2 separate regions of the Homo sapiens genome follow, and region 1 is linked to region 2. Evidence: fine-mapped expression QTL. A gene starts in region 2. The other region holds a variant in brackets. All regions are shown on one strand. Distances are between the middles of the regions.

Region 1 (15,191 bases), 62 kb after region 2:
CCTAGTCACAGAAATACACGATATAAAGCAGAAATCAAAATCACTTTAACATTTTAATTTATTATTAAAAAAATTTTTTTTATTTTAATTTTTGTGGCTACATAGAGGTGTATGTATTTATGGGGTATGTGAGATGTTTTGATACAGACATAGAATGTGTAATAATCACGTAATGTAAAATAGAGGTGTCCATCCTCAAACACTTACCCTTTGTATTATAAACAATACTTTATTCTTTTGTATTCTGTTTTGGGCTACAGATAAACTGGAATGTATTTTAGAGGAGGGACTAGGAAGGTGAGGCAGCTCAGGACCTGCTTAGGAAGAACAGTTGATGAACGTTAGTTCTCTCAGCTATGTGAAGGGCTCTGTGTGAGTGAATGAACACAGACTCATTCTGAGTGGGCAACAGCAATGGGCAGAAGCCATAGGGACTTTGCAGCAGGTTAAGGACAGGCTTTGTGGCGGAGCTGCTTAGAAGTGGAATAGATTATCCTAGAAGGTAGTCGTGGGAGTTTTTTATCCCTGTGTCATTGATGGTGTTGGAACACAGAAATGGACAATCTCCTCCTCGGGGATGGATGATGTTTTAGTCATTTGTGCTGCTATGACAGAACACCTGAGACTCAGTAACTTATGAATAATAGAAACTTATTTTCTCACTATTCTGGAGTCTGAGAAGTCCAAAATCAAGGTGCTGGCAGATTTAGTGTCTGGGGAGGTGCCATTCCTCATTGATGGTGCATCCTCATGTGGTAGAAGGTGGAAGGGAATGTGAAAGCAAGAAGGGGCAGGCAGCTCTCAGAAGCTTCTTATAATGGCATTGATCCAATCGCTTCCTGAAAGGCCACACGTCTTAATACTCTCATATTAGGGATTAACTTTCAACGTGCAGGCTGGGCGAGGTGGCTCACGCCTGTAATCACAGCACTTTGGGAGGCCGAGGTGGGCGGATCACCTGAGGTCAGTAGTTCGAGACCATCCTGGCCAACATGGTGAAACCCGTCTCTACTAAAGATACAAAAATTAGCCAGGCATGGTGGCGCCTCCCTGTAGCCCCAGCTACTCGGGAGGCTGAGGCACGATAATTGCTTGAACCCAAGAGGTGGAGGTTGCAGTGAGCTGAGATTGTGCCACTGCACTGCAGCCTATGCAATAAGAGCAAAACTCCATCTCAAAAAAAAAAAAAAAAAAAGAAGTTTCAGCATGTGAATTTTGGGTGGGACACAACATTCAAACCACAGCAGGTAGGGAAGAATTCTCTAGAAAAGCACTGTAGGGTAATGGAGAGCTGTTATTTGAGGAAATGTTGGCACATGGGAATGGTGTGTACAACAGAACTGTTGAGGACTGTTGGACTGGGTGTTACTTATTAAAGTTTTCTCTAACTTTTAGAGTCACCAGCCTCAGTTATTCAGTGAAACAAAGAGCAATTTTAAAAAATCATCCAGGCAGCTGGCTTAATGTATGTAAAAATGCAGTGCTAGGTATAGTTGCTGAAGATACTATGCAGACGTTTGCAAATGAGACAGTAATGTGGGTGTAAAGTAGTTATTTGGGAAAAAATGAGCAAACAAAAAATGTTTATATGTTGAACTTCATTACTCATCATTTGAAGTGAAAAAATTATTCTCTTTATACTTCACCCCACTTCATTAATCTCTCTCCAAAATTGCAAGGTTGACATCACCCCATAGTAGTAATGTTTGTTCATTAGGTTTATTTCCTTGTTTTATGCGTAATATCTGAATTCCCAAGGCCAAAACTCCTTAGCTTTGATAATAGTATTTGTTAAAGTTGAGAAAACTTTTCCTTCCTTCCTTCTTTCCATCCATCCTTCTTTCCTTCTTCTCTCCCTCCCTTTCCTCTCTTTCTTGCTCAACTTTTTCTTGATGTTTTCAAAATATTAAGGTGGCTCTTTGAAGTTTAACAGTCCAACAGTCTGAATTTGTTTGACGTTTTGTTAAAGATTCCGAGAAAAGTAGTATTCTGGTGTTTGAATGGCTTATTGATTTTTTTTCTTTAAAGATTGCTTTGAGATGAAATTGAAGTAAACTTAAGACTTTGCATAGTTAGATTTGACATTAAGTCTCTTCAAGCATTTGGTTTTTGTTTCCAAGTGAGGAAGGACTGAGTGTTCTGTCATCTGACTCTGTGTCACAAAATTCCAAACTTGATGTGGCTGAGCCTGTGATACTCTTCAAAATACCATTTTGGAGGAATTTAATGTGAGTTAGACAACTGAGTCGAGTTGTCTTTTATACTTTAATAGAGAATAATACTGCATTTATCTCACATCCTATAAGAGAAAACTGAGGAAAAACCTTTTAATGACTTCGGGTGTATGCTTTGAGTTATTTTTACCTTTATGATGATGTTTTTCCTGAGTGAGTGGTTGTGTTTTGACCAACTAAGCCCATTTATTTTTTGAACATTTTAAATGCAACAATTAAAATGAACAACCCCTCCCAAGAAAAATCCTAAAAGACAACTAGCCTTTGGAATATATCCGAACAGTTTTAGTAGATGGTGCTGGAAATTTTTTCCCTTTGAAGGAGACATTAGTAACCAATTGTCTGCCTTAAGCCTACCTTTTTCGTTGTTAATTTGCAAATAATGAAGTTTTAAATTCTTGTCGGCCTGTTTGGATGACTTCAGACGTCTGTTTCAATGATAGTTTTGTCCAAGGCTGAAAGAAGTTATACATTATGTAAACACTATTTTTTTCTTTTTCTTTTTTTTTTTGAGATGGAGTCTAGCTCTGTCACTAGGCTGGAGTGCAGTGGCGTGACCTTGGCTTACTGCACCCTCTGTCTCCCAGGTTCAAGCAATTCTCCCAGCCTCCCAAGTAGCTGGGACTACAGGCGCGCGCCACCATGCCCAGCTAATTTTTGTATTTTTAGTAGAGACAGCATTTCGCCGTGTTAGCCAGGCTGTTCTCTATCTCCTGACCTCGTGATCTGCCCACTTCAGCCTCCCAAAGTGTTGGTATTACAGGTGTGAGCCACCACACCTGGCCTTATTTTTTTCTTATAAAACATGAACATTAGTAGGAATAGTTTTATGGAAGGCATGTTTCTTTCTTTCTTTCTTTCTTTCTTTTTTTTTTTTTTTTGAGATGGAGTCAGGCTGGAGTGCAGTGGCACAATCTGAGCTCACTGCAAGCTCTGGCTCCCGGGTTCACACACCATTCTCCTGCCTCAGCCTCCCAAAAGGCATGTTTCTTATAACACATGAAAACATGACCATTAGTAGCATAGTATTATTAAGGATTGAAAATTATACCAATAATTTTGTACTAAGCACTGTAAAGTGGAATTGGTAAGTCCTAATCTTAGAAAACTGGCCACCTTTGTAATATTGCATTTAAGTTCACAAAATAATAATTTAGTGGTAGGAAAGAAACCAAATTATTTTTAAGGAAAGAATAGAAAAGTGGAGAAAAGAAATCAGGAAGAGGAATCTTTCTGTTTAACAGGTGTAGAGATTTAACCAAAAATTTCTATATATTTAACATTAGATACTTTTGGTTTTCAGAGAATGTTTACATATGTTAGATTGAAAGGTGTGGGGGTACTGAAATCTATAAAAACAACTATTAAGGTGTGACTAGGGTCTAATACTAACCAAACAGAAGGCTGCCAAGTGTCCTGCTGCGCTTTGGAAATAACAGGTAAGTAAGTAGACTGCTATTCTGCCAGTTAGGGTTTTGGTTTTACATCTTGCATATAAGTCTGTTTAGATTCCTAATTAATTATCATAACCTAGGCTGGTTTTTTTCCTCATGTCCATTTAACTTTTTGTGCCAAATTATTTTACAGATTTAATGTGTTACGTAGTACATCTCTAGTAGTAACCAGAGATTTACTCCTTTTTTGGAAGCACTTACTTTAAAAGCTCCTGAAGAGTTGTTTTGTGTTCTAAATAATTTATACTTTTTCTAAATAACTAATACTTGTTCCTAGTATCATTGTTGTTAAATGTTCAGCATGCCTCTTAGGTATTGGCTCAGTGTTTTGCAGCAGACATTCACCATTGTGTTTCCCCGAGGATACCCTCGCAGCAGCATTACCCTGGAGTTGGGAGGCGTTCTTGAGGGACAGGTTCTTGAGGTGTTCTTGAGGGACTGACCTGTATGGTTGCCTGTCGTGATTTTTGAGGGGTGGTAGCCTATCCAAAAGTTCTCAATATTTATAACTGATAATCTAGTTCTTATAGGGCCTTAAACTTAAAAAAAATTCCAGTGAATTAATTGTACAGCATATGTGTCTATAGTCTAGGCATCTTTAAATTCTAACATAGAGCTTTTAAAAATGCTTGTATGTTTAATGTAACAATACAAAGCAGCAAAATCCCCAGAGCATCCTCTCTTATAATCACGAGTTAAAGTTTGGTGAGTGATTGGACCTCCCAAGGGTCTCTCTAAGTCAACCACTATAACTTCCCCTCAGCTCTCTTCTGGGTTGAGGCAGAGCCTGTTACTCCGTTGGGGAAAGACTTTGTTTTTTATGCTTTCCTGATGATTCTGACATTTTTGATGATGGCTGTTTATTACACTGATTTTTTTAGCCTTTTGGCTAAATTCAGTGTTATTCCATTCTTAATTCAGTGTTATTCCATTCCATTAAAGAATTAATAAGGAAATGTGTTTTAATTTAAAAATGTGTACTGTATCCTTTCATATGAATTAATCTGTTTTAGGGCCCTACTAGAATAAGATTTTAGAAGCTTATAGATGGCAGCATCTGTCTAGGTGCCATCCAGACTCTTGGTTACTCACCATTCTAAGCAGAACAGTATGGAACTTAGAAGTTAAATGAATGAATGAATAAAACAACTTGAGCGCAGATCATCTAGGGCCATCACTCTATGGTATAAGACATACCTCACAATTATCCTTGTATTCTCTGAGCTCCAAGAAAAGCCCCAGAGCCCAGAAACACTAAGGAGCTCAGGCTTGGGATCAGATGAGGGTTCAAATGCTGCCCCTGCTGCTTCCTATCTACAGTCATGCATGGCATGATGGTGTTTCAGTCAATGGTGGCCTGTATATATGACGGTGGTCCCATACAGTTATAATGGAGATGAAAAATTCCTATGGCCTAATGATGATGTAGTAGCCATCCTAAAGTCATAGTGAGATACCTACTCGTGTTTGTTGTGGTACTGGTGTAAATAAACCTGCACTGGCAGTTGTATAAAAGCATAACACATACAGTTATGTACAGTACATAATACTTGATCATAATATATAACTGTGGTTTATTTACTGTACTTTTAAATCATTATTTTAGAGTATATGCCTTTTATTTATTAAAAAAAAATTAACTGTAAGCCAGCCTCAGACAGGTCCTTCAGGAGGTATTCCAGAAGGAGGCACTGTTATCAAGGAGATGGCAGCTCCATGCATGTTATTGCTCCCGAAGATCTTCCAGTGGGACAGGATGTGGAGGTGGAAGACAACGATATTGATGATCCTGGTCGTGTGTAGTCCTAGGCTGTTGTGTTAGTTTTTAACAAAAAGTTTTAACAAGTAAATAAAAAGTTAATAGAAAAAAGTTATAGAATAAGGATATAAAGAAAAAATATATATATTTTGAGATGGAGTCTCACTCTTTCGCCCAGACTGGAGAGCAGTGGCACGATCTCGGCTCACTGCAACCTCCACCTCCCGGGTTCAAGCGATTCTCCTGCCTCAGCCTCCTGAGTAGCTGGTATTACAGGCACTCGCCACCACACCCTGCTAATTTTTTTTTTTTTTTTGAGACAGAGTCTTGCTCTGTCACCAGGCTAAAGTGCAGTGGCGCGATCTCGGTTCACTGCAACCTCCACCTCCCAGGTTAAAGCGATTTCCCTGCCTCAACCTCCCGAGTAGCTGGGACTACAGGCACCTGCCACCATGCCTGCCCGACTAAGTTTTTTTTTTGTATTTTTAGTAGAGATGGGATTTTGCCATGTTGGCCAGGCTGGTCTCAAACTCCTGATCTCAGGTCACCTGCCCACCTCGGCTTCCCAAAGTATTGGATTACAGACGTGAGCCATGGCGCCCGACCAAAAAAATATTTTTGTACAGCTATACAGTGTTTGTATTTTAAGCTATGTGTTATTACAAGAAAGTCAAAAAAATTTTAAAAATCAAAAAGTTTATAAAGTTACAGTAAGCTAAGGTTAATTTATTATGGAAGGAAGAAAAGTATTCTTAAAACAAATTTAATGTGGCTTACATGTGCAGTGTTTAGAAAGTCTACAGTAGTATACAGTAATATCCCAGGCCTTCACATTCACTCACCACTGACTGACTCACCCAGAACAACTTCCCAGTCCTGCAAGCTCCATTCATGATAAGTGCCCTATATAAGTGTTCCATTTTTTATCTTTTTTTTTTTTTTTTTCCTGAGACGGAGTCTCACTCTGTCTCCCAGGCTGAAGTGTAGTGGCATGATCTCAGCTCACTGCAACCTCCACCTCCCAGGTTCAAGCAATTCTCCTGCCTCAGCCTCCTGAGTAGCTGGGACTACAGGCGCCCACTACCACACCGAGCTAATTTTTGTATTTTTAGTAGAGACGGGGTTTCACCATGTTGGCCAGGCTGGTCTCAAACTCTTCACCTCAAATGATCTGCCCACCTTGGCCTCCCAAAGTGCTGGGATTACAGGCGTGAGCCACCTCGCCTGGCCTCATTTTTTATCTTTTATGATATATTTTGACTACACCTTTCCTATGTTTAAATATGTTTAGATACACAAATACTTACCATTGTGTTACAGTTGCCTACAGGTTTGTAGCCTAGGGGCAATAGGCTACACCGTATAGCCTAGGTGTATAGTAGGCCGCACCATCTAGGTTTGCGTAAGTATACCCTATGATGTTCGAATAATGACAAAATTGCCAAACAACAAATTTCTCAGAACATATCCTCATTATTAAGCGATGCATGACTGTGTATGAACTGACATGTTAACTTTTCCTCATCTGTAAAATGGAATTATCATTGTATGAGTTAAGCAGAATAGGATTAAATAAAAGATTATTAAAAAATAATAAACACTTAAATATTAAGCTTACCATGTGTTGGACAGTGTTCTGTGTGCCTAATTATTTAGTATACAATACATAAAAAGTGCCAGGCACATACATAGTAGGTACTCAAATAATCTTTTCTTTTTTCTTGATAAATGGTTAACAAGCATTTGTTCTGTTGAGATGAAGTTTCTGATCTGTGACTTGACATGAGAAAGCTGAGAAACAGCAACCATGAAATTACAGAATAATTTCAAGTCTTTTCATAACTGAACATGGTCTTTTCCTATAATCTTTTTATAATACTATTGGAATTGGTATGTTTTGACAGTGCTTGTGTTGGTGAATCAAATAGCTCCTGATTTAATCAGAACAAAGACATACTGTTTCAACATGTGCTCATGTTACTGGCTCCCATAAATAAAGCATTTAATTGATGAAAATGTAATCATATTTGAACTCTGGAAGAGCTACCGTTCCAGCCTATAAGATAATATAAGGATAAAGAATGATTTTAAATGCTTTTGACATATTCTGGTACAGTGAAAGATAATTTCAAAACTGCAATTTAGTCGTCTTGGTATCTGGCAAAGAGGAGGTGCTCAATATCCTGGTACTAATCAGTAATTGCTAAGGAAGCCGGGCTGCGAAGTGGTCATACTTAGCCAACTGTGGACCAGGGATTTATAGGGTGGTCAGCCTGATATTTCCAAACTCATTATAGTATGAATCATTATAGTATGAATAGACACACACACACACACACACACACACACACACACACACACACAGTATTTAGTATAGTATTCAGTATATATTATAATAATATATATTACCTATATTCAATATAGTATTCATTATAGTATGAATTTTTAAAGATTATTTATGCCTGAGATTATTGAAAGACATACATTAAAGAAAGCTAGAAAATTTGTCATTGAAGTGCCTGTATTGGAAAGTATGTGGGTGTTGAAATTGGAATGTTAAAAAACAAGGCAGCATAAATTACTGAATTGCTATGGGGAAATGCCTTCAAGGCTGATTGGTAAACCTAGAGAACGTGAAATGTAAGATGGGATTGAAGCCAACAAGGAGGTTCCCAAGGGGCAAAAAAAAAAAGAATTGGCCCCATTCTTGCTGTCTAAAAAAGTTTTTTATGATGTTCAAATGAAGCATCGTGGGTGAAAAAAAGCTTATAAATTGGAGACACTACACAGATAGTAATTATACTTTTGTTGATTGAAAACATTTTCCTGAAAACTCCAAGAACAAACCTTTAGTGGTGAGGGAAGTAATCATATTGCCCTATTTTGCACTGAAGCTCATCATAATTTTTCTTCCTCAAACCATTCCTACTTCAGACTTCCCTTTTTCCATAAGTGGCAGTTCTATCCTTCCAGTTGCTTAAGCCAGAAACTTCAGTCAGCCCAGATACTGCTCTTTCTCTCATACACCAAATCCATCTTACATCTTCCTCCACATTTTCACTTCTCCTGTCCTAGACCTAGCCACCAACACCTTTCACTTGGATTATTCTGTGGTCTTTTTAGTTGGTCTTCCTGCTTCTGCTCTTGCTTTCTTCTCACATAGCTGCAGAGTGATCCTTTTAAAAGATAAATCAAATTATGTTCCTCCTCTGCTCAGAATCCTTCAATGGCTTCCCCAAAGCCAAAATCTTCACAGCAGCCTGCAAGTTCATATAAAATATGACTCCCTGATAGCTTCCTGAGTTCATCTCCTAGCATCTCTGCTGTGATCATTTTGTTCCAACCACTGTGGCCTCAAATACGCCACACAAGCTCCCACTTCAGAGACTTTGCTCTTTTTGTTTTTCTGCCTTGAATATTCTTCC[G/A]CACGTACCCACATGGCTCACTTCCTCATTTCCCTCTGGTGTTGTTTTGTGTTACCTCAACACTAAGGCTTTGATCACTCTGTTAAAAGTAGGACTCCCTGTCCTCCTCCCTTGTTCAGTTTTTTTCTCCTAACATTTGTTTTCATTCAACATACATATTATAGTTGACCCTTGAACAACACAGGGGTGTTGACCCCACACGCAGTTGAAGATTTGCATATAACTTTTGACTTCTCAAAAACTTTACTAATAGCCTACTGTTGACCAGAAGCCTTACCACAATAACATAAGCAGTCAATCAACACGTATTTTATATGTTATATATTACATACTGTTTTCTTACAATAGAGTAAGCTGGAGAAAAAATGTTACAAAGAAAATCATAAGGAAGAGAAAATATATTAATATTGACTCTTCACTGAGTGGAAGTGGATCATCATAAAGGTCTTCATCCTTGTCATCTTCACGTTGGGTAGGCTGAGGAGGAGTAAGAGGAGAGGTTGGTGTTGCTGTCTTAGGGTGCCACAGGTGGAAGAGGGGAGGAGGCAGAAAGGAAGGCAAGAGGGGCAGGTACACGTGGTGTAACTTTTCAGAAATAACATTATAGTTTCTGTCTGAATGTTTGCTTTTTCCTTCCTCTAAAACTGTTTCTATATGGTATCAACTCCTCTTCCACTGTTTGCTTTAGTTTCAGTGCCATATCATAGAGGGATCTTGTCATAAAAGCAGTCCTGAGTAATCCAAACCCTTCTGCCAGATTGTCAATGTTGATTTATTTTCTGGCACTGCTTCTTCTACATCTTCTTCTTTATTGGCACTGGTTTTGGAATTATTCATCTCCATCAAGTCGTCTTCTGTTAATTCCTCTGGTGTGCTATCTATTAGCTCTTGAATTTCTCCACGATCTATATCTTTTTTTTTTTTTTTTTTTTTTTTGAGATGGGAGTCTTGCTCTGTCGCCCAGGCTGGAGTGCAGTGCCGCGATCTCAGCTTACTTCAACCTCCGCCTCCTGGGTTCAAGCGATTCTCCTGCCTTAGCCTCCTGAGTAGCTGGGATTACAGGCATATGCCACCATGTCCGGCTAATTTTTGTATTTTTAATAGAGACGACGTTTCACCTTGTTGGCCAGGCCTGTCTGGAACTCCTGACCTCAAGTGATCCGCCCGCCTCAGCCTCCCAAAGTGCTGGCATTACAGGCGTGAGCCACCGCGTCCGGCCCATGATCTATATCTTAACCCTTCACCTCCGACCTTTTTGGCCGTATCTACAACCTCTTTCATGATTTTTGTGATTGGCTCTGTTGTCAATCCTGTGAAGTTATGCAGGACATCTGGACAATTTTCTCTAGCAGGAGTCTATTGTTTCAGGCTTGATGGCTTTCAGGACTTTTTCTATAACAATGGAATCTTCAATAGTGTAATCCTTCCAGACTTTCATGATGTTCTATCAGGGTTCTCTTGCATAGTGTTGACAGTCCTTTCCATAAAGGAATGTGTGTAATGAGCCTTAAAGGCCCTTATGAGCTCCTGATCTAGGGACTGAATTAGAGACATTGTGTTTGGGAGCAAGTAGACGCCCTTCACCAGTTTTGGTGTTGAACTCATGGGGTGAGTTGAACTCATGGGTGGCTTGGGGGCATTGTCAAATATCAAAAGAACTTGAAAAAGCAGACCCTTACTGGCAAGGTACTTCCTGACTTCAGGGACAAATCATTGATGGAACCAGTTCAGAAAAAGGGTTCTTTTTGTCCAGGCCTTAATGTACAACCAAAAAACTAGCAGCTGGCTTTTATCTTTTCCCTTCGAGGCGTGGGGGTTAGCGGGCTGTCCTGATTATAAACCTAACTGCACTTGCTCAAAATAGTCAAGTTAGCCTATCCTTTCCTCCCTTAAATCCGGGTACTTTCTTCTCCTTACTAATTAATGTCCTTTGTAGCACATTTTCCCCCAAAATAGAGCACTTTCATCAGCATTAAAAACCTGTTCAGGTTGGGTGCAGTGGCTCATTCTTGAAATCCCAGCATTTTGGGAGGCCAAGGTGGGAGGATTGCTTGAGCCCAGGAGTTTCAGACTAGTCTGCTCAATGTAGTGAGACCTCGTCTCTGCAGAAAAGTAAAAAAAAAAAAAAAAAAAAAATTAGCTGAGCATGGTGGCATATGCCTGTAGTCTTAGCTACTAGGGAGGTTGAGGTGAGAGGATTGCTTGAGCCTAGGAAGTGGAGGTTGCAGTGATCCGAGCTCATGCCATTGCACTCCAGCCTGGGTGACAGAACAAGACCCTGTCTCAAAAAAATTCCACAGAAACCTATTCAGGTGGAAATCCTTTCTCCTTAATGATTTTCTTAACTGGCATTGGGGAACTCATTTGCTGCCTATTGGTCAGCAGAAGCTGCTTCTCCTCCTAAAGTTTTAAAGCCAAACCACTTTCTAAAATTATCAAACCATCCTTTGCTGGCATTAAATCCTCCAGCTTTAGATCCTTCACCTTTTTTTTTTTTTTTTCTGAGATGGAATTTCGCTCTTGTTGCCCATGCTAGAGTGCAGTGGCATGATCTTGGCTCACTGCAATCTCTGCCTCCCAGGTTCAAGTGATTCTCTTGCCTCAGCCTCACGAGTAGCTGGGATTACAGGCATGTGCCACCACGCCCGGCTAATTTTGTATTTTTAGTAGAGATGGGGTTTCTCCATGTTGGTCAAGCTGGTCTCGAACTCCCCACCTCAGGTGATCCACCCGCCTCGGCCTCCCAAAGTGCTGGGATTACAGGCGTGAGCTACCGCGACCGGACTCCTTCACCTTTCTTTTGCTTTGTCATATAATGACTTTGCTTTTTCTCAAATCATATGAAAGTTTATAGGTATGCCTTTCTACAGCAGTCGTGCACCCACATAAAAGCTGCATTTTCAACATGAGATAAAAACATAATTCACACAAAATGCGAGGTTTTTGCACCTGTTGGCGTAGCTGCAGTGATGGCTTCACAAATTTCCTTTGCTTTTTTTTTTTTTTTTTTAAACAATGGTCCTTGTGCTGGATTTACTTATCTTGAAATGGAGGCAGCTGCAGCTGTAGACCTCAATCTATTGTACATATCAAGCAATCCAGCTTTTTCTTATAATGTCACCACTTCTTTCTGCTTCTTGAAAGCACGTCCAGCATCTCTAGCGGTACTTTCTATGGGTCTTACGGTGTTATTAAATACAGTACTGCACTAAGCATCATGAAAAATGTGTAAGAACCATGGGAGATCACTTTTTATTGTGATATTATTTATGCATTTTACTGGAGAGACGAATTGCCCACGTGGAGATGATTAGTGTCATACAGCATTTTACGGAGATAGTCGCAACACTTGAGCTCAAGGCAATAGCAACAGGAGATAGCTGCAAAATGATTTCATATTGCAAATGATGCAATATGTACTACACTTAATTTTGTGTAGTTATGATGTAAAACTGCATCTTTAGGTTTGTTTACATTTCTCAGGACTGGGAATGACACCATGTACAGTCTGTGTTTGTATAAGTTTTGATATTTTTTAACTTTTAATAATAGATTTGTATATAAAAGTGGTAAATGATAGACTAATAGGTACATGTATTTTATGCATTCACAACACACCTTTTTCTTAATTTTTTGATATTTTTAAGCTACATGGTTTGTCTGCAAGTTTTTTCAAATTGTCATAAATCTCCAAAAATTTTTCCAAGATAGTTATTTTTAAAAATCTGTAAGTGGACCCATGTAGTTAATGCCCATGTTGTTCAAGGCTCAGTTGTATTTATTTTATTGCTGGCTATCTACACACTTTAGATTATGAGATTCGTGAGGGCAGGTTTCAAAATATTTCTTCACCTAGAACAAATGTGGTGTGGCGATAATAAGTGCTCAGTAAATATTTATTGACAGAATTCCATGACTGTTCATAGTATCACTACTATTGATTCATGAAGCCTCCTTTAAGTAGAATAACTGCTATTCACTGTTAATATAAGTTCTGGTGAATGGCAATACTAATTTAAGCACTCTGTTACTAATGGTGGGAAGTGCCATACTGTAGTTTGCAGCTTCCTTTGTAGTTGGATGGGGTCTTGTGACCGGATTTTAATTAGTGGAATGTGGGTGGAAGGGACGTACCACTTTTAGGTCTGTCCCATGAAAACCTCCCATGTGTGATCCCCTACAGTGAATGATTTGTGAAGACTTTGTTGAAGGTGGTAGAGCTATGTGGCGGAAGGCTTTTGGCTTCATGAATAATCACATGGTGGAGAGTTGCCTACTGATTAGGAACACCTGTTTGGACTTCATCTGAGTGGGAAATACATATCTGTTGGATTAAGCAATTGAAAATAGAAATTTATCTGTTAAAGCATAACATTACCTTAACTGATACAAACCAGTAACAGCCAAATTATTTTCTTTCTCCTTCTGTTGCATATCCTAAGGGTAACCCAGATATCTTGTCTCTTTTTTTTTTGTCATTGGCTTCTGTATTTGAAATGTTATTTAAAAGCACAGTTATGTCCTTGAATATAAGTACCATTTTTATAGTTTTACTGAGATATATTTCACAGACCATAAAACTCACTTATTTAAAGTTTACAGTTTTTTTATTCACAGAATAGTACAACTCTCACCACAGTCTAATATTAGAATGTTTTAATACCCCCAAAAGCAACCCTGTACATATTAGTAGTCGTTATCCATTACCTTTTCTCTACCAGCCCTTGGCAACCACAATCTACCCACTTGTCTCTGTGAATTTGCCTCTGTGGTCATTTTATATAAATGGAAGCGTATAATATGTGGCCTTTAGTGTCTATCTTCTCATGTACAATATTTTCAAGGTTATCCTTGTTGTAGTATGTATTCGTACTTCATTTCTTTTTATGGCTGAATAATATTCCATTATATTAGATATATTACATTTTACTTAACCATTAATTGGTTGATACATTTGATTTGTTTCTATTTTTTGACTATTATAAATAATACTACGAACATTCATGAACAAGTTTATGTTTGGACATATGTTTTCAAATGTCTTGGGTATATATTGAGGAGTGAAATACTGGCCCATATGGTAACTCTATGTTTAACACTGAGGAACTGCCAGACTGTTTTCCCAGGTGGTTGCATCATTTTACATTCCCACCAACATTGCCTTTACGTTTTGTTACCCCCAGAGGAGTAGGGTCACCTGGTAAGTATAGTTCCTTAAGGGCTGTAGGTGGGGGGTACTCACAGAGGTACATGGGAGTGGCAGGCAGTGTGAAGTTGACCTCTCTCCTGCCTCTTCTCCTTCTACTTGTTCTTGCTTGCTTACTTGGCACCAACTACCCTGGCCTCCCTGCTATTCCTAGAACATAGCTCACTCTCACATGCTCTCCCTTTAGGCCCTTTCTGCTGGCTTTTCCCTCTGCCTGGCATGCTCTTTCCTTCTGTAGCTCCCTCAAGTCTTTGTCCATATGTTACCTTCTCAGTGAAACCTCCTTTCTCTCTACCCGATTTAACCACCCCACACTGTCATTCCTCCCCAGCTCTATCACTTATGACATTTAGAAAAAGTATTATACTTTCTTCCTTACACTAAAATATAAGCTTCATGAGGGCAGAGATTTTGGTCTGTTTTCTTCACTGATATATCTCTAATTTTTTTTTATTGTGCCTGACACATAATAAGTTTCCAGTAAATATTTATTGAAAGAATGAATAAATAGCTTTCCATGTCAATAAATGCATTTTTTGTCTTAAAATTTTAAATCACTGAAGTAAACATATGAGTACATTTTTATCTTAAAAAGTTTACCCAATACTGTTAAAAGAAACACTCCCTTTTGCCCTGCCCCTGAATCTCACTTTCCTGTTAATGATTTGGATGTATTCTTCCTGACCACGTTAAAGGTATCTGCACATATATATGTGTGCCTATAGAAATACGTAGTTTTGTTTTTGTTCAGTTTTATGTAGATATAGGTTATATGTATACATCTATATAAAACCACTATCCAAATCCAAAGCTTATTTCATCACCCCAGCATGAACTTTATGCTTACTAAGCTGTCTTACTCTTTTTAACTTTCATCTTGTGGATGTGCCATTATGTATTGATTGACCCTGAGGTTTCCAGTTTTTTCTTTTCTTTTTCTTTTTCCTTTTTTTTTGATACGAAGTCTCACACTGTCGCCTGGGCTGAAGTGCAGTGGTGCGCTTCACTGCAACCTCCGCCTCCTGGGTTCAAGCGATTCTTCTGCCTCAGCCTCCCGAGTAGCTGGGATTACAGGCGCCCGCCACTAGGCCTGGCTAATCTTTTTGTATTTTT
Region 2 (15,191 bases):
CTTTTTTTTTCTTTTTTTCTTTTTCTTTTTTTTTTTTTTTGAGTCAAAGTCTCACTCTGTCACCCAGGCTAGAGTGCTGTGGCACAATCACAGCTCACTGCAGTCTTGACCTCCAGGCTCAAGTGATCCTCGCAGCTTAGCCTCCAGAGTAGCTAGGACTACAGGCTTGGGCCACCACATCTGGCTAATTTTTAAATTTTCTGTAGAGATGGGGTCTTGCTATGTTGCCCAGGCTGGTCTCGAATTCCTGGCCTCAATCAATCCTCCCCCCTCGGCCTCCTAAAGTGCTGGGTTTACAGGCATGAGCCACTGTGCCCGGCCTATGATGAAGTTTATAAAAACAGGCAAAAGTAATCTTGAAACTAGAAATCAGATCAGTGTTTGCCTATGGGTGAGGGGAGTCATTAGAAGGCTCTGTGTTGGCCAGGAGCGGTGGCTCACGCCTGTAATCCTAGCACTTTGGGAGGCCGAGGCTGGCAAATCACTTGAGATCAGGAGTTCGAGACCAGCCTGGCCAACATGGTGAAACCCCGTCTACTAAAAATACAAAAATTAGCCGGGCATTGTGGCACGTGCCTGTGATCCCAGCTACCCAGGAGGCTGAGGCAGAAGAACTGCTTGAACCTGGGAGGCGGAGGTTGCAGTGAGCCGAGATTACAACACTGCACTCCAACCTGGGTGACAGAGAGAGACTCCCTTAAAAAAAAAAAAGAAGTCTCTGTGTCTTCGTGGTGGTGGTTACATGGGCTGCACCTCTGTGAGCACTCAGAGAACTCTACACTTATATAATAGGTATATGTATATATATATATATATATATATATTTTTTTTTTTTTTTTTTTTTTTTTTTTTTTGAGACAGAGTCTTGTTCTATCGCCCAGGCTGGAGGCCAGTGGGGTGATCTTGGCTCACTGCAACCTCCATCTCCTGGGTTCAAGGGATTCTCATGGCTCAGCCTCCCGAGTAGCTGGGATTACAGGCGTGTACCACCACACCTGGCTAATTTTTGTATTTTTAGTAGAGATGAGGTTTCACAATGTTGGCCAGGCTGGTCTCAAACTCCCAACCTCATGTGATCTGCCCACCTCAGCCTCCCAAAGTGTTGGGATTATAGGCGTGAACCACCGCACACAGCCCAAAATGGGTATATTTTATTGTATGCAAATTATACCTAAAAAAAAAAAGTATTGTAAAAAAATCTTGGCCACACTCATGCCTGTAATCCTAGCACTTTGGGAGGCCAATGCGGGGCAGATCACTTGAGCTTAGGAGTTTGAGACCAGCCTAGGCAACATAGTGAGACCCCCATCTCTAAAAAAATACGAAAATTAGCCAGGCATGGTGGCACGTACCTGTAGTCTCAGCTACTTGGGAGTCTGAGGTGGAGGGATCACTAGAGCCTGGGAGATCAAGGCTGCAGTGAGCCATGATTGTGCCACTGCACTCCAGCCTGGGTGACAGAGCAAGAGCCTGTCTCACAAAAAAAGCAACAAAACAAAATAAAACAACAACAACAACAGCAAAGCGCCATCTGGGCCACATTTGACACAGGGCCTACCAGTTTGTGTCCTCTGTCCCAGTCACTGTATACATTCCTCATACAATTTTTTTTTCTTTTTCTTAGACAAGGTCTGGCTCTATTGCCCAGGCTGGAGTGCAGTGGCATCATCTCAGCTCACTGCAACCTCCACCTCCCAGGTTCAAGCCATCCTCCTACCTCAGCCTCCCAAGTAGCTGGGACTACAGGTGTGCACCACCACACCTGGCTAATTTTTGTATTCTTTGTAGAGGTGGGGTTTCACCATGTCGCCCAGGCTGGTTTCAAACTCATGAGCTCAAGTGATCCACAGAGGGAGACAGAGCGAGACTCCGTCTCAAAAAAAAAAAAAAAAAAAAAAAAGACACTCCAACCTCCAACCCAAAGAACTGCTCCCTCTTTTTTCCGGTATTGCTGAGCGTCCTTGGTCACTTATTTGGTGCCTGTGACCTCTTATTAGCGGATAAGAAGTTGAAGGTGCAAAATAATTTAAGAAAAATGCATGGCTCAATAACATAAAATTGGAACACTGTGCCCATTAATATATTTTCTCCAAGAGAAGCGGTCTTTGGGGATGAATGGGGACATAATCCTGGGCTTGTGGCACTCAAGGATAGAAAACGGGGTCAAGAGGGCCAGTGCCTGTTCTGTGGTAAGCAACTGAGGAAAAGCAAGCTAAGTGCTTTAGGAAGACAGAGAAAGAAGGGGAGCAATCTTGGGAGGCCTCCTGGAGGAGATGGCTTTGAGGTCAGGACAACTATTTCTCATCATTCTGTTGTGCTTTACAGTTTGCAAAGAATGTTTATACACATTTTGTTCTTGGATTCCTATGACCCAGCAAAGAAGCTGATTTCCTCCCCATTTTACAAAGATGAGGAAACTGAGCCCAGAGTGGTGAAGGGTCCCATAGAAGGTCTCATAGAGAAGCAGTGACTAACTCTGAACTTGACTCCAGCTGTCTGCCTCCACACCCATTGTTTTTTCCCTGACAACACAGCGTAGGTGAGAAGGACACCTGGTGGAGCAGGGTTTGCAGGAGCCAAGACATGGAGGGAAGCAGGGCAGGTGTTACAGAGAATGTGGAGTCATGGTCTGTGCTCCCGAGGCAGCAGGGCCAGCATAGTCAGTTGGACCTCAGTGAAGAATGGCATGGGGTGAGCAGTGACTCTACAGTGGGGATCACCTGATTGCTTGGGTAATTAGCCACAGGGAGTCATTATGTGACTGGCCTCATTTGGATTGACTGAAGGAAGCTGGCTGGTCAGGTCAGTGGCAATGGAGGGCCGCTGATCACTGACAGCAGGCCTGGCTGGCTTGTGGAATTTCATTCAGTTCTTCATGGGTTGAAAACAGCATGATGTCCTGGCCAAGGGTTCTGCCAGTCCCCAGGGTCCAGGCCTGGCCCTCAGGTTCTCATCCAGTACAAGGCCCCAGGTTGATGCCCACCTGCAGAAAACAGGCCTGCTTCATGGGCAGGCAAGGCCTCAGGGCATAGGGGGTTCATATAGAATGGTTGAACACTGACCCCTTGGTCAATGATGACAGAGGGTTACAACCCCTAACCCATGAAGCCAGCAGGAAGTGGAGACTAAGTTGGGAATGCCCAGGATGCCTCCTGGGTGTGCCAGCCTCTGGTCTTGGATGCTGCCAAATGACCCACTAGCCACCCTCTTGTCTTCCCACTGCCTCTTGGGGAAAGGGCTGACCTCATGGTTATGGAGACAGGCATGTCTTTGTGCTCAAGGGGACTGATGTCCATCTGTGGGATTACAGGGGGGACAGAACCCAAATAAATGACAAACAAATGCAGGTATAAATTAGAAATATCACCACTGGGGAGAGAGAGAACCTGTTCAGATGGGGTGGGCAGGGAAAGCCTCTCTGAGGAGACCATCTTGTTAAGCAGATACTGGAACAATAAGGTGTCACCTATGTAAAGGTGGGTGCAGGAAGTGGGATGGGGAGTGTGCCAGTGGGAAGGACAGTGACATACCCATGAAATGGAAAGGAGACAGGTGCAGCTAAAATACAGCAAGCAAGGCAGGTGAGTAGGACAGCTGAATGGGACAGGTGAAGGTGGGCCAGGCCAGTCTTTTTTTTTTTTTTGAGACACAGTTTCGCTCTTGTCACCCAGGCTGGTGTGCAATGGCACGATCTTGGCTCATTGCAACCTCCGCCCCCCCCGGCTTCAAGCAATTCTCCTGCCTCAGCCTCCCATGTAGCTGGGGTTACAGGCGCGCACCACCACGCCCAGCTAATTTTTTGTATTTTTAGTAGAGATGGGGTTTTGCCATGTTGGCCAGGCTGGTCTTGAACTCCTGATCTCGTGATCTGCCCACCTCAGCCTCCCAAAGTGTTGGGATTACAGGTATCAGCTACTGCGCCAGGCCAGGGCCAGTCCTTTTTTTTTTTTTTTTTGAGACGGGGGTCTCACCCTGTCGCCCAGCCTGGAGCGCAATGGCGCCATCTCAGCTCACTGCAACCTCTGCCTCCCAGGTTCAAGTGATTCTCCTGCCTCAGCCTCCCGAGTAGCTGGGATTACAGGTGTGTGCTACCACACCCGGCTAATTTTTTGTATCTTTAGTAGAGATGGGGTTTTGCCATGTTGACCAGGCTAGTCTCGAACTCCTGACCTCATGATCCGCCCACCTTGGGCTCCCAAACTTTTGGGCTTACAGGCTTGAGCCACCGCACCTGGCCCTGGTGCCTTATAGGCCAAAGTGAGGCTTTTGGACTTCTGCAAAGTGCAATAGAGAACCTTGAAAGGCTTTCAACTGGGGTGAGTCATGACCAGAAGTCAGTTTTCCATAAGTTACCCCTCGTTCCGTGCGCCTCTGGGGCTGCATCTTCGGTCAACAATCCCCAACTCGAATTTCCCAGTAGCGTGGTTGAGAAGCTGGCATGCCAGGTTTGTGGCTAAGTTTTGCTTCTCTTTAAGGATGACCTGGAAGCTCTCAGTTTGCTCTTTGTCCGTAGGGAATGTTACGGCCTGTCCTAAAGGATGTTGCAAGAGTTAAAGGAGATTCTGTCCAACTGCACATGTGCATACCCACACCCACATCTACACAGTGTCTGACACAAGTCAGATGTGCAGACAGTTTTAAACTGTTCCTTGAGTTCTCTGTTCTTCTTCCTTAGGGGTCATGAAGGTGAGCACTGGAGAAAGGCAAGAGAGTTTTACAATATTTGAATAAATTGAAAGATAGGACCGGACGTGGTGGCCAGCGCTTTGGGAGGCTGAGGCGGGTGGATCACTTGAGCCCAGGAGTTCAAGACCAGCCTGGGCAACATGGCAAAATCCTGTCTCTACAAAAGATACAAAAATTAGCTGAGCATGGTGGTGCACACCTGTAGTCCCAGCTACTCGGGGCTGAGGCGGGAGGACTGCTTGAGCCTGGGAGGTAGAGGCTGCAGTGAGCCATGATAGCACCATTGCACTGCAGCCTGGGTGACCGAGTGAGACCCTCTCTCAAAAAAAATTTTAAAAAGGCTGGGTGCGGTGGCTCACACCTGTAATCCCAGCACTTTGGGAGGCTGAGGCGGGTGGATCATAAGGTCAGGAGTTCGAGACCAGACTGACCAACATGGTGAAACCCCGTCTCTACTAAAAATACAAAAATTAGCCGGGTGTGGTAGCGTGCGCCTGTAATCCCAGCTACTGAGGAGGCTGAGGCTGGAGAATCGCTTGCACCCAGGAGGCAGAGGTTGCAGTGAGCCAAGATTGCACCACTGCACTCCAGCCTGGGTGACAGAGCGAGACTCTGTCTCAAAAAAATCATTAACAATAGCTAACATTTACAAAACTTTTACTATGTCCTAGGCGTTGAGCTTGTGAGGCAGCTGTTAATCTTTTTTTTTTTTTTTTTTTTGAGTTGGAGTCTTGCTGTCACCCAGGCTGGAGTGCAGTGGCACGATCTTGGCTCACTGCAAGCTCCGTCTCCCGGGTTCACGCCATTCTCCTGCCTCAGCCTCCCGAGTAGCTGGGACTACAAGCGCCCACCACTACACCTGGCTAATTTTTTTGTATTTTTAGTAGAGACAGAGTTTCACCATGTTAGCCAGGATGGGCTCGATCTCCTGACCTCGTAATCTGCCCACCTCGGCCTCCCAAAGTGCTGGGATTACAGGCGTGAGCCACTGCGCCAGGCCAGAGGCAGCTGTTACTCTTATCCTAATTTTACAGACCAAGACCTGAAGGCCCAGAGGGGATAGATAAGTTGCCAAGGTCACAGGGCTGGTTGTTGAACCTGGATGGTCCGTCCTCAAAGCCAGTCCTCTTAACCCTTATATGATTATCCTAGGATGTGTAGAGACACATAAACCAGTGTGGATATCAACTGATAATCTGAAAAAAGAAGACCTCATAAGGGCATGAGAGGGAATCAAGCCTTTTCATATGTTAGAACCTATTCCAAAGAACCAATATTTAGATTCATATGGTATTTGCTCAAACTGAGGTCTAAGGAAGGAAATGGAGAATTCAGAAATATATTAATCAAAATAGAAAGTCTAGCGTAAAAGTAGATTTTACTAAACAAAGGAATTTTTTTTTTTTTTGAGTTGGAGTCTCGCTTTGTCGCCCAGGCTGGAGTGCAGTGGCGCGATCTCAGCTCACTGCAAGCTCGGCCTCCCAGATTCACGCCATTCTCCTGCCTCAGCCTCCGGAGTAGCTGGGACTACAGGCGCCCGCCACCATGCCTGGCTAATTTTTTTGTATTTTTAGTAGAGACGGGGTTTCACTGTGTTAGCCAGGATGGTCTCAATCTCCTGACCTCGTGATCTACCCGTCTCGGCCTCCCAAAGTGCTGGGATTATAGGCGTGAGCCATGGCGCCCGGCCTTTTTTTTTTTTTTTGAGATGGAGTCTTGCTCTGTCACCCAGGTGGAGTGCACTGGCACAATCACGGCTCACTGCAGCCTAAAACTCCTGGCCTGAAGTGATCCTCCTGCCTCAACCTCCCAAAATGCTAGGACTACAGGTGTAAGTCACCACGTCTGGTCAATAATTATTTAATAAATGGTAACTGCAGAATTAATAACAACCGATGACAGTGGTAGTGAGTTATGTCCATATTTTACTCCAAATAAATAAGCCAAAATAAAATCGGGATAGTCATCAGAGAATGAAATATGAAATGAAATTGTACAAAACTAGCAGAAAAAAGACTATCAGATGGGCAGCAGAAAGCTCACTTTGTCAGCACTGAAGCAATTAAAACATTAGAATGACACACTGAACATTAGAATAAAACAAGAAAGAACAACAGGCTAGAAAATATTTGCATCAATGACGACAAAGAAGTAATATCTGTAACATAAAAAAATGCTTGTTCAAAGTTAGAAGAGGTTCAAGTCCCCAGAAGATGGATATGAATAGATTATTCACAGGAGAGGGAATGCATATAGTAAATGCATGGAAAAACATTCATTTTTGAATGTTGTGTCACCTAAGAAATGCTAAGTAACCTTGAACTAGCAATAGACTATTAAAGTAGGGGGGAAATGGCACTCAATGTTTATAAGTGTGTTAAACTCCTTACACTTGTTCCTTGGAGGCGGTAGAATAATTGGGGCAGCTCTTGGGAAAAATATGACGCTGTAAGCCAAGACCACTTGGCCATTCATAGCCTTCTACCTGGGAGCCTTTCCACTCCCAGGTATTTGTCCCAAGTGCAGAATTCAAGGATACGTTAGCAAACAACCGTAAAGAACCAAAAACATTAGGGGGCTGAGTGAATAGTTAAGGACACCTGCACACCTTAAAAATGAATCGTGAACAAATAAAAATGGTAGTGAAAGTAGTAACAAAAAAAGTGTGGTTGCAACTATACACAGTATATATATGTTTCATGTCGTGAAAAGTTGCATTTCTTTGTAACAATATGGATTACTGTATTCTTTTTAGATTTTTCTTTCTCCGGTTGTCATATTGTTTTTTCAGTGGTGCTAAAAAAAATCTGGATTCAAATCCAGCCAGCAGCGTGACTTTGAGCAAGTTTGTGAAGTGGGATATTTCTCAGAGCGGTTGAGGGAGGTGGCTTGAGCTCGCACCTGGCACACGGTGAGAACCCCAGACTTTCTTCTTGCTGTGGGGGCGCCTCTGGGCCCTGTCCGATAACGCCTTTCACGGCCTGGGAGTCTGATCGGGAGCTCCCGGGTCTCGGTGGCGCGGGAACTCCCTTCTGGAGGGAACTTTCCGGAGCAGGTGGGCGGGTGTATGTCCCACGGGCACCTGCGCTCAGGAGGAGGGGGCGAGCTCGGGCAACGTAACCGCCCACGGTCACCTCGGGCTGCGGGGCCGACTTGAAGCCGCCTTCGAGGTTCTGATCCTTCCCGGGGCTCTGGGCTCGTTCGTCCCAATTCGCAGCTGTCCTGTGCCCCCTCGCTGCAGGAAGACTCAAGATTTACAGGGCGCCTCCTGCGGAAGCCTAGAGACATCGGGGGCGCCGAAGGGCCCGCGCCGGACTTCGCAGACAGGGGGCACTTGGGTGCCCTTTCAGGTCTCAGAGGGAGCGCCCGATCCCCGACGAGGGGCAGGCAAACGGGCGCAGTGCCCGCGGCGGCGGCACGCGCGCATCTGGGATCCGGCCGCTTCTCCGCTCATGCCATCTTGTCCGAGCCAGTCACGTGCGGGCGACAGCGGCGCGCTTCGCCGGGCCGGTACTCCAGGTCCGACCCGCGAACCCCTCTGGGATCCCCGCCGCTCTGTCTACAACCCGAGGTGAGGCGCAGGCTGGATCGGGGCTGGGCCAGGGCGGGCACTGGGTTCCCGGGGACGCGTCTCCTCTTCCGGGCCGTTCCGCTCGGGGCCACAGCGCCGTCGGGGGCCCGAGGCGCCGCCGCGTGTCCTGCGCCACGGCCTCGGGGCCGTCCGCGCCGAGTTGCTGGCTGGGGGCGTGGGTGGCCCGCGGCGCCGGACCCCCGGCACACCAGCCCGCGGAGTCCTTGCCTCCCGCGCGGCCCCAGCCAGGAGGGATGGCGCTGGGGCGGGAGCGGGGCAGCCGGGCCCGGGAGCTCCACGGGCGCGGCGCGAGGGGCGCAGGCTGCCTGGAGGACCGCGGAGCTGGGGGTGGGGGGGCGCGGGCGCATGCGCCCTGCGTCCGTGCCATATTGGAATGAGTCGGAGCGCGGAGCGCCGCCGCCGCCTCCGCCGGAGCGCGGGTGGAGGGGGGCGGGGAGAGCTGCCGGCCGCCCCGCTCCGCCGAACCCAGCAGGAAGGAGGGCGCGAGCGGGCGAGCGCGGGCAGCACGGGAGGAAAAAGCTTCCGCGCGGGGGAGCGAAAAGACGGAAAGAAAGAAAGAAAACGAGCGCGAGAGGGGGAAAAGCGAGCGATCGAGCGAGCGCGCGCGCGAAAACTCCGGGCAGGTAAAAAAGCGGGGCCACCGGCTGGGCCTTCCCGCGCGGCGGCCTGGAGGGGCGGCGGCGGCGCCGGGGCGGGGGACCGTACGGCGTCCCCTTCGAAGCGGCCGCGCAACTTTGCCAACGGGAAACCGCCGGGCGCCGGCGGGCGCGCGGGCTGAGGCGCCAACGGGCGGCGGCGGCGGCACGTTGGGGGCGGGGGCGGGGCGGGGGGAGCGCGGCGCCCGCGCGCGGCCCCGCGGTCCCGCGCGCCGGCCGGCCGGCTGCAGGGGCGCGCCTGGGCGCCTCGCCGCGGCGGAGAGCGGCGGCGGCCGTCAGCCCCTGGCAGGCAGCGCGGCGCGCGTCAGCCCGCGGGAGGCGTGAAAGGAAAGTGGCCGGGCGGCGGCAGTGGCGGGCGCCCAAGTTCCCCGGCGCGCCGGGCCCGCCGCGCGCCCCTCCCCGCGCGCGCCCCGCGCTCCGCCCGCCGAGCCCCCGCGGACCCGCCCCCCGGGCTCGCTCCGGGCGGGGCGCGAACCCGCAGCTGGGGCCGGGCGCGCGGCCGGTCGGAACTTCGGAGGGCCCGGGCGGTCGCTGCGCGGTGGCGGAGCGTCTAGTGGCCGCCGCAACCGGTGGCTCCGGGCCGCCGTTGTGAAGTGAGCGGGCCTCTCCCGCGCCGCGGCCCGCCGGGCACCGCCGCTGGACCCCGCGCCGACCCGGCAGCGCCCCGACCTGCCGCTCGGGAGGTCCGCGACCGTTTCGATTTCTGTTCCTAAAGTCCGATTTTGGACGCTGAAAAGGAGGCTGTGGAGGGGCGAGCGGCGTCCTGGGAAGCAAGGCCTGCTCTGTGCGGAGCAGAAACGCCTTGTGCGAACAGAAATAAATTCCCGCGGAAAGGATGTACGTTATGCTAAGTTTTTCACAAGATGTCAGCTGTTCCCGTAGGGTCTAAAACTAAGCCGGCAGGCACAGGTCACCCCCAGAGCTTGTGCTCAAGGAGTGGTGGACGCTTGGGTCAGGTGGGGGTGTTCCCAGCGGGTCGCCCGAAGCAGCACTGGTTGATGGTCCCAAGTGGTGTTTTTGAGTCCTGTTAGCAGTGATCTGTGTTTGAGAACCAAGTAACCATCAAAGAGATTCGAAAGGAAGTAAGATGGATTTTGTCAATCCCTGCGTATGTCTTCTCTTGAACCACATTTTCTAAGATGTCATTCTTAATTTTATTGCATCTGGGTAAAATGCCTGAACGTGTAATCATTAATTTGTCAACTGGCGAGAGGATGAAGGAAGATGTGTCTTCATGTGTACACTTTGAGGCCTGTTGACTAGCGTTTTGAGGCATTTGTTGAATTAGGCCGTAGGTAGATTCGGAGTTAAGATTTGTTTGCGATGTCAGAAAAGTTACGGCCTGGTAGAAACGGCCAGAGATCAGGAAACAGTTCTGTTATTACCGTTGTCATTGACTAACTGCCTTATCTTGGGCACATTTCTTACCCATTGTAGCTTTGATTTTCCTTATTTGCAACATTAAGATAAACAGATGATGTTTGGGGGTGCTTTCAGTTCGAAAATTCGGTGGCTTTCTTAACTGAAAGATTCTTAGAAATCACAGTGTATATTTTGAGAGGTACTACATAAAAGTGCTCGCAATGTGTGTCTTTATTAAAATTCATTTGGAAAAAACATCTTGGTAGCTAGATCCAGAATGGTTTTATATGATTATTTGAATAGATTTTTAACAATGTATTTTTATGGAGGTATGTATAACCTACCGAAAGATCTTAAGGGTACAATTCAATGACTTTTTATATATGTATATGCCCTGATAACCACACTCAGATCAAGATATGGAACATTTTCAGGCCTTGTATCCTTTCCATTCAGTAAACACATTCCCCCTCCCCAAGGCAACCACAATTCTGACTTCTGTCACCACAGATGAGTTTTGCCTCAAAACAGGACCCTTTTGAGGGTTAAAGGGGCAATACTAACAAACTGAGGATAGCTTGTATGTAAACTTGGAGTTATGGCCGTGTTGGCCATGACCCTTTGCTTTTATAATGATTCTTAGGGTTTTTGTAATCCAGAATAACTTAAAATTCTGTCCTGAGGAACTTCTTAGAAGGTCACTTTTCAGTGGGGGCAATACTTTGCAGGTTACGATTGGTAGTTCTTGGGAGTCCTTATGTTCACAGACAATGGTATTAATCTATGACTTCCCATTTTTAGAATATAGGTACTATATATTTGTAGACAACAGATTTGAAGAATGAATCATGAATTTTCCTAACAAGTTAGAGTTTAAGGTGTCAGTAGATGAATCAGTTTCTTAATGCCTAGAATTTGCTGAGAAAATTGAATGAAAATTGGTTTCTTAAAGTTAAGTGAATTAAGAATGTGTGCGTAAAGCTTTAACAACCTTTTCAATGACAGCAGTTGACTTATATATACAGGATAGTCAGCTGGTTTATCAAATCATTTAAAGTGCAACAATGAAAGCAAAAACAAAAGGTTAACTAAAAATTATGTCAGGTGTGATTAAAAAAATCAGCATGACTAAGATACCTTTTTTTTTTTATTAACCCTCTTTCTAGGAAGGTGGACTTTTAAATATTCTCCACTGAAGCAAATGCTGCAACAATTTGCATTTCCTTCACCAATGTCGTCTTGTGCCTTTTCTTGTTCCTACTGTAAAGGAGATGGGTTAGATGTTGTAAGTGAATTCTTATTTTGTTAGTTCCTAACAAAGGCTTGTGTTTTTTACTGCAAAGATATCTGTGTGATAAAAGTTGGGAATGTTCTAAGGCCTGTGGTGTAGGGATCCATGGGGAATAGTCCACAAAGTTAAAAGGTTTTCTTTTGTGAAATGATTTCGCTGAATAATTCTGTCTTTCCCGTGTTAAGCTAGCCAGCCAACTGACTGACCAGCAACTAAGCTGGATTTGGTCACTCCACCCAAGATTCACAGCCTCATTAGCCAAGAGAGTAATTGATGACTTAGCTATTATTGATACATTGTTTCTTTTTGTGGCTCTTTTTAAATTTCTTGACTTTTATGTGATCAGATTGTTTAATTTAAAATCTATTACATTTTTAAGAGAAGCAACTAAAGAGATACACGAGAAACAAAATACACAATGAAAGGGAATTTCCTTTTTTTGCTGTTTTGTTGTAAACTCAGATTTTTCCTTTTAAAAATGATTGCTGGCTAGGCACAGTGGCTCACGCCTATAATCCCAGCACTTTGGGAGGCTAGGCAAGAGGATCGCTTGAGACCAGGAGTTCGAGGCCAGCCTGGATGAAAGAAAAGGGAGACCCTGTGTCTCCAAAAAAATAAAAAAATTAGCCAGGCGCGGTGGTGGGCACCTATAGTCCCAGCTCTTCAGGAGGCTGAGGTGGGAGGATCCTTTGAGCCCAGGAGTTCGAGGCTGCAGTGAGCTATGATTGCACTGCTGCACTCCAGCCTGGGTAACAGAGTGACACTGTCTCAAAAAACAAACCAACCAACCCAGTATGATTTGCCTATCCATAATCTTCCTGCTTCTGTAGTATACTTTTGCTTTCACAGTGATACCTAGACTGGGTTTAGCTGTGGAATGGTGGTGTAGCAGCAGGTATCATTTAACTCTAAAGTCTGTAGAAAAGATGAACTATACAAACTTCATTGGCTTTTTATTTTGGCGTCATGTTATGTTCACATTAAGTAAATAGATACAGTCCAAAAACCAAAAGGCCATTATTTAGGCAGACATTTTACATCTTTAATATTTTTAATGTTACATTTTTTCTCTTATAATTTTCCAAAATTTTGCTTTCTTGGATTATTTGGCTTATAACCAATATTTTGGAATAACATAAAATAAAAGAACTTGTAATGAGTAAATGATACAACTTCCTTATGGCAGAGTATTTTTCTTTTAGTATATAGCATTCGTTACCTAACTGGGATATTTTGTATTTGAAAATAATATTTCTGTATATACATAGTTATTAAATGGGATAAAAGTGTGTGGGGATTTTGGTTACTTGCGAGATTTTAAACCATTAGAGTTTGGGGAGTGGGATTTTGATAGGAGTCTCCCATTCTTCAGGGGATACTAACCTCATTGGAAAAGAATTTTTTTTTTTTTTTTTTTTTTTTTTTTTTTTTGAGACAGACTTTTACTCTTGTTGCCCAGGCTGGAGTGCAATGGCACGATCATGGCTCACTGCAACCTCTGCCTCCTGGGTTCAAGCAATTCTCCTGCCTCAGCCTCCCAAGTAGCTGGGATTATGGGCATGCACCACCATTCCTGGCTAATTTTGGTATTTTTAGTAAAGATGGGGTTTCACCATGTTGGTCAGGCTAGTCTTGAACTCCTGATCTCAGGTGATCCACCCTCCTTGGCCTCCCAAAGTGCTGGGATTACAGGCATGAGCCCCCGCGCCTCGCGGAAAATGATTTAAAATAGAAAGAATGTGGTCAGGTTGTTGCAGATTCATGTTTAAACTTTTCAAAAGGGGGAGGAAGGATAAGAACACTGACACATTATTAATAGAAAAATCATATGACTTCACTGCATAAGTCTTAATGATTTGATTGTAAACCTTTTCCTCTAACTCAGAGACACCTGAAAACGTGTATGTAATTATTCTTTCTTTTATTCAAGAGGATGTTTATAACCTTATTTAGTTCTCTTTTGTCTTCAGGCAGTCACTCAAGGAATTTATTTAAAAACAAAAAATAGGCCGGGCGCAGTGACTTACACCTGTAATCCCAGCATTTTGGGAGACCAAGGCAGGCAGATCTCTGGAGTCCAGGAGTTTGATACCAGCCTGGACAACATAGGGAAGCCCTGTCTCTACAAAAAAAAAAAAAAAAAAAAAAAAAAAAAAAAAAATTCAGGTGTCTTGGTGCATGCCTGTAGTCTCAGCTACTCGGGAGGCTGAGGCAGGTATATCTCTTGAGCCAGGGAGACAGACGTTGCAGTGGGCTGTGATCACACCCCTTCAGCCTGGTGACATAGCGAGACCCTGTCTCAAAAAAATAAATAAAAACAAAAAAAAAAGTAGTCTGTATATTGTGTGTTAAATGATGTGTTAAGTACCTGTTGAACTCTGTGGTTTGAACAGTTGAGTAACTTCAGTGAGCCAAGCATGTCACTATGCAGAGAGAGGCTATAAGGTGATATTTCCAACATGATGCACAGTACTGTGTGCATTGGGTCTTTTTTTTTTTTTTTAACTGGCATACTGGTCTGGTGCATTGGTTCTTTTTTGATGTTTTTGCTTAGTCTAGAGAAAGGTTAATTATTAAACTGATGTGGGGCAGATAGGGTTGTTAAGTGTCAGTATCTGTTTATCTGGGAAACTTGGGTTCTGTCTGAGATGGTATTTGGAGAGGATCTTAGATGAGAGTTGGAAGGTGGTTTGTTGGCAGTTGAAAGTGTGGGACAGTCACACATTTGGAATGACAACATGAGCTGGGATGAGAAATTTAGCAATTACTAAAATGCCTCAGGAGTTTTTCTTGCTGATATTCAATTTAAAGTGTTAGCCAACAAGTACTCAGATTTGAATTCCAAATTATTATTTTTTATACCCTGAAGAGTTTTTAAAAAAGCATTTGAGGTGGCTACTATGGAATATTTGCTCAGTAGTAAGGCTGCCCATGGGCTGCCACTGGTTCTTCATTTCTGTTCACATTAATTTGCTCCCCAGACTAGAGTGCTTTCCTGTCTCTCAGTTTTTTCTAGTGTTCTTTCTTAAGGATCGGTTCTTCTAAAATATGCTTTTTCTGTGTTAAAAATAGTATATGGTAATTTTGAATTGTAACTTTAAGATACCTTTTGGTCTCATTTTGACTTGCGTCATAAAATAACCCTCTTGGAGTGGTTAGATGGTGATCACACCAATGCACTTAGCATATTGCCTGTCTAGAACATAGTGATATATAATGAGGATATAAATTTTTATTATTAAAAATGTTTATATGTAACAAACCTGCGCATCCTGCACATGTATCCTGGAACTTAAATGAAATCAAATAAAAAAAAAGTATACCAAAATTAGCCAGGTGTGGTGGCGGACACCTGTAGTCCCAGCTGCTTGGGAAGCTGAGGCAGGAGAATTGCTTGAACCCAGGAGGTGGGGGTTGCAGTGAGCTGAGATGACATCACTGCACTCCAGCTTGGGCAACAGAGAGAGACTCTGTAAACGTATGGTTGTGGTAAGTTATATACATATAGCATGAATTGTACCATTTTAACCACTTTTACACGTACAGGTCAGTGGCATTAAGTACATTGACATTGTTGTGTAACCATTACCACCATCCATCTCTA

The links. PIP is the estimated chance that this variant, and not a neighbour inherited with it, causes the effect.
Region 1: its variant is fine-mapped to the expression of SFMBT1 in whole blood (TOPMed, PIP above 0.99). The same link has a PIP of 0.9 or more in blood mononuclear cells.

What each region holds. Positions count from the first base shown.
Region 1 is chr3:52,977,347-52,992,537 of GRCh38, reverse strand. The region is part of intron 1 of SFMBT1 (Scm like with four mbt domains 1); the gene reads left to right. Among named protein-coding and RNA genes, the nearest start is that of SFMBT1, 61 kb to the left of the region's middle. The variant G/A (reference allele first, on the strand shown) is at 8,873.
Region 2 is chr3:53,039,526-53,054,716 of GRCh38, reverse strand. SFMBT1 (Scm like with four mbt domains 1) reads left to right here and starts at 8,644. Exons shown (of 21, transcript NM_016329.4): 1 at 8,644-8,901. RefSeq lists enhancers at 7,327-7,826, 7,827-8,328 and silencers at 8,316-8,425, 8,476-8,795, 8,896-8,955, 9,316-9,605.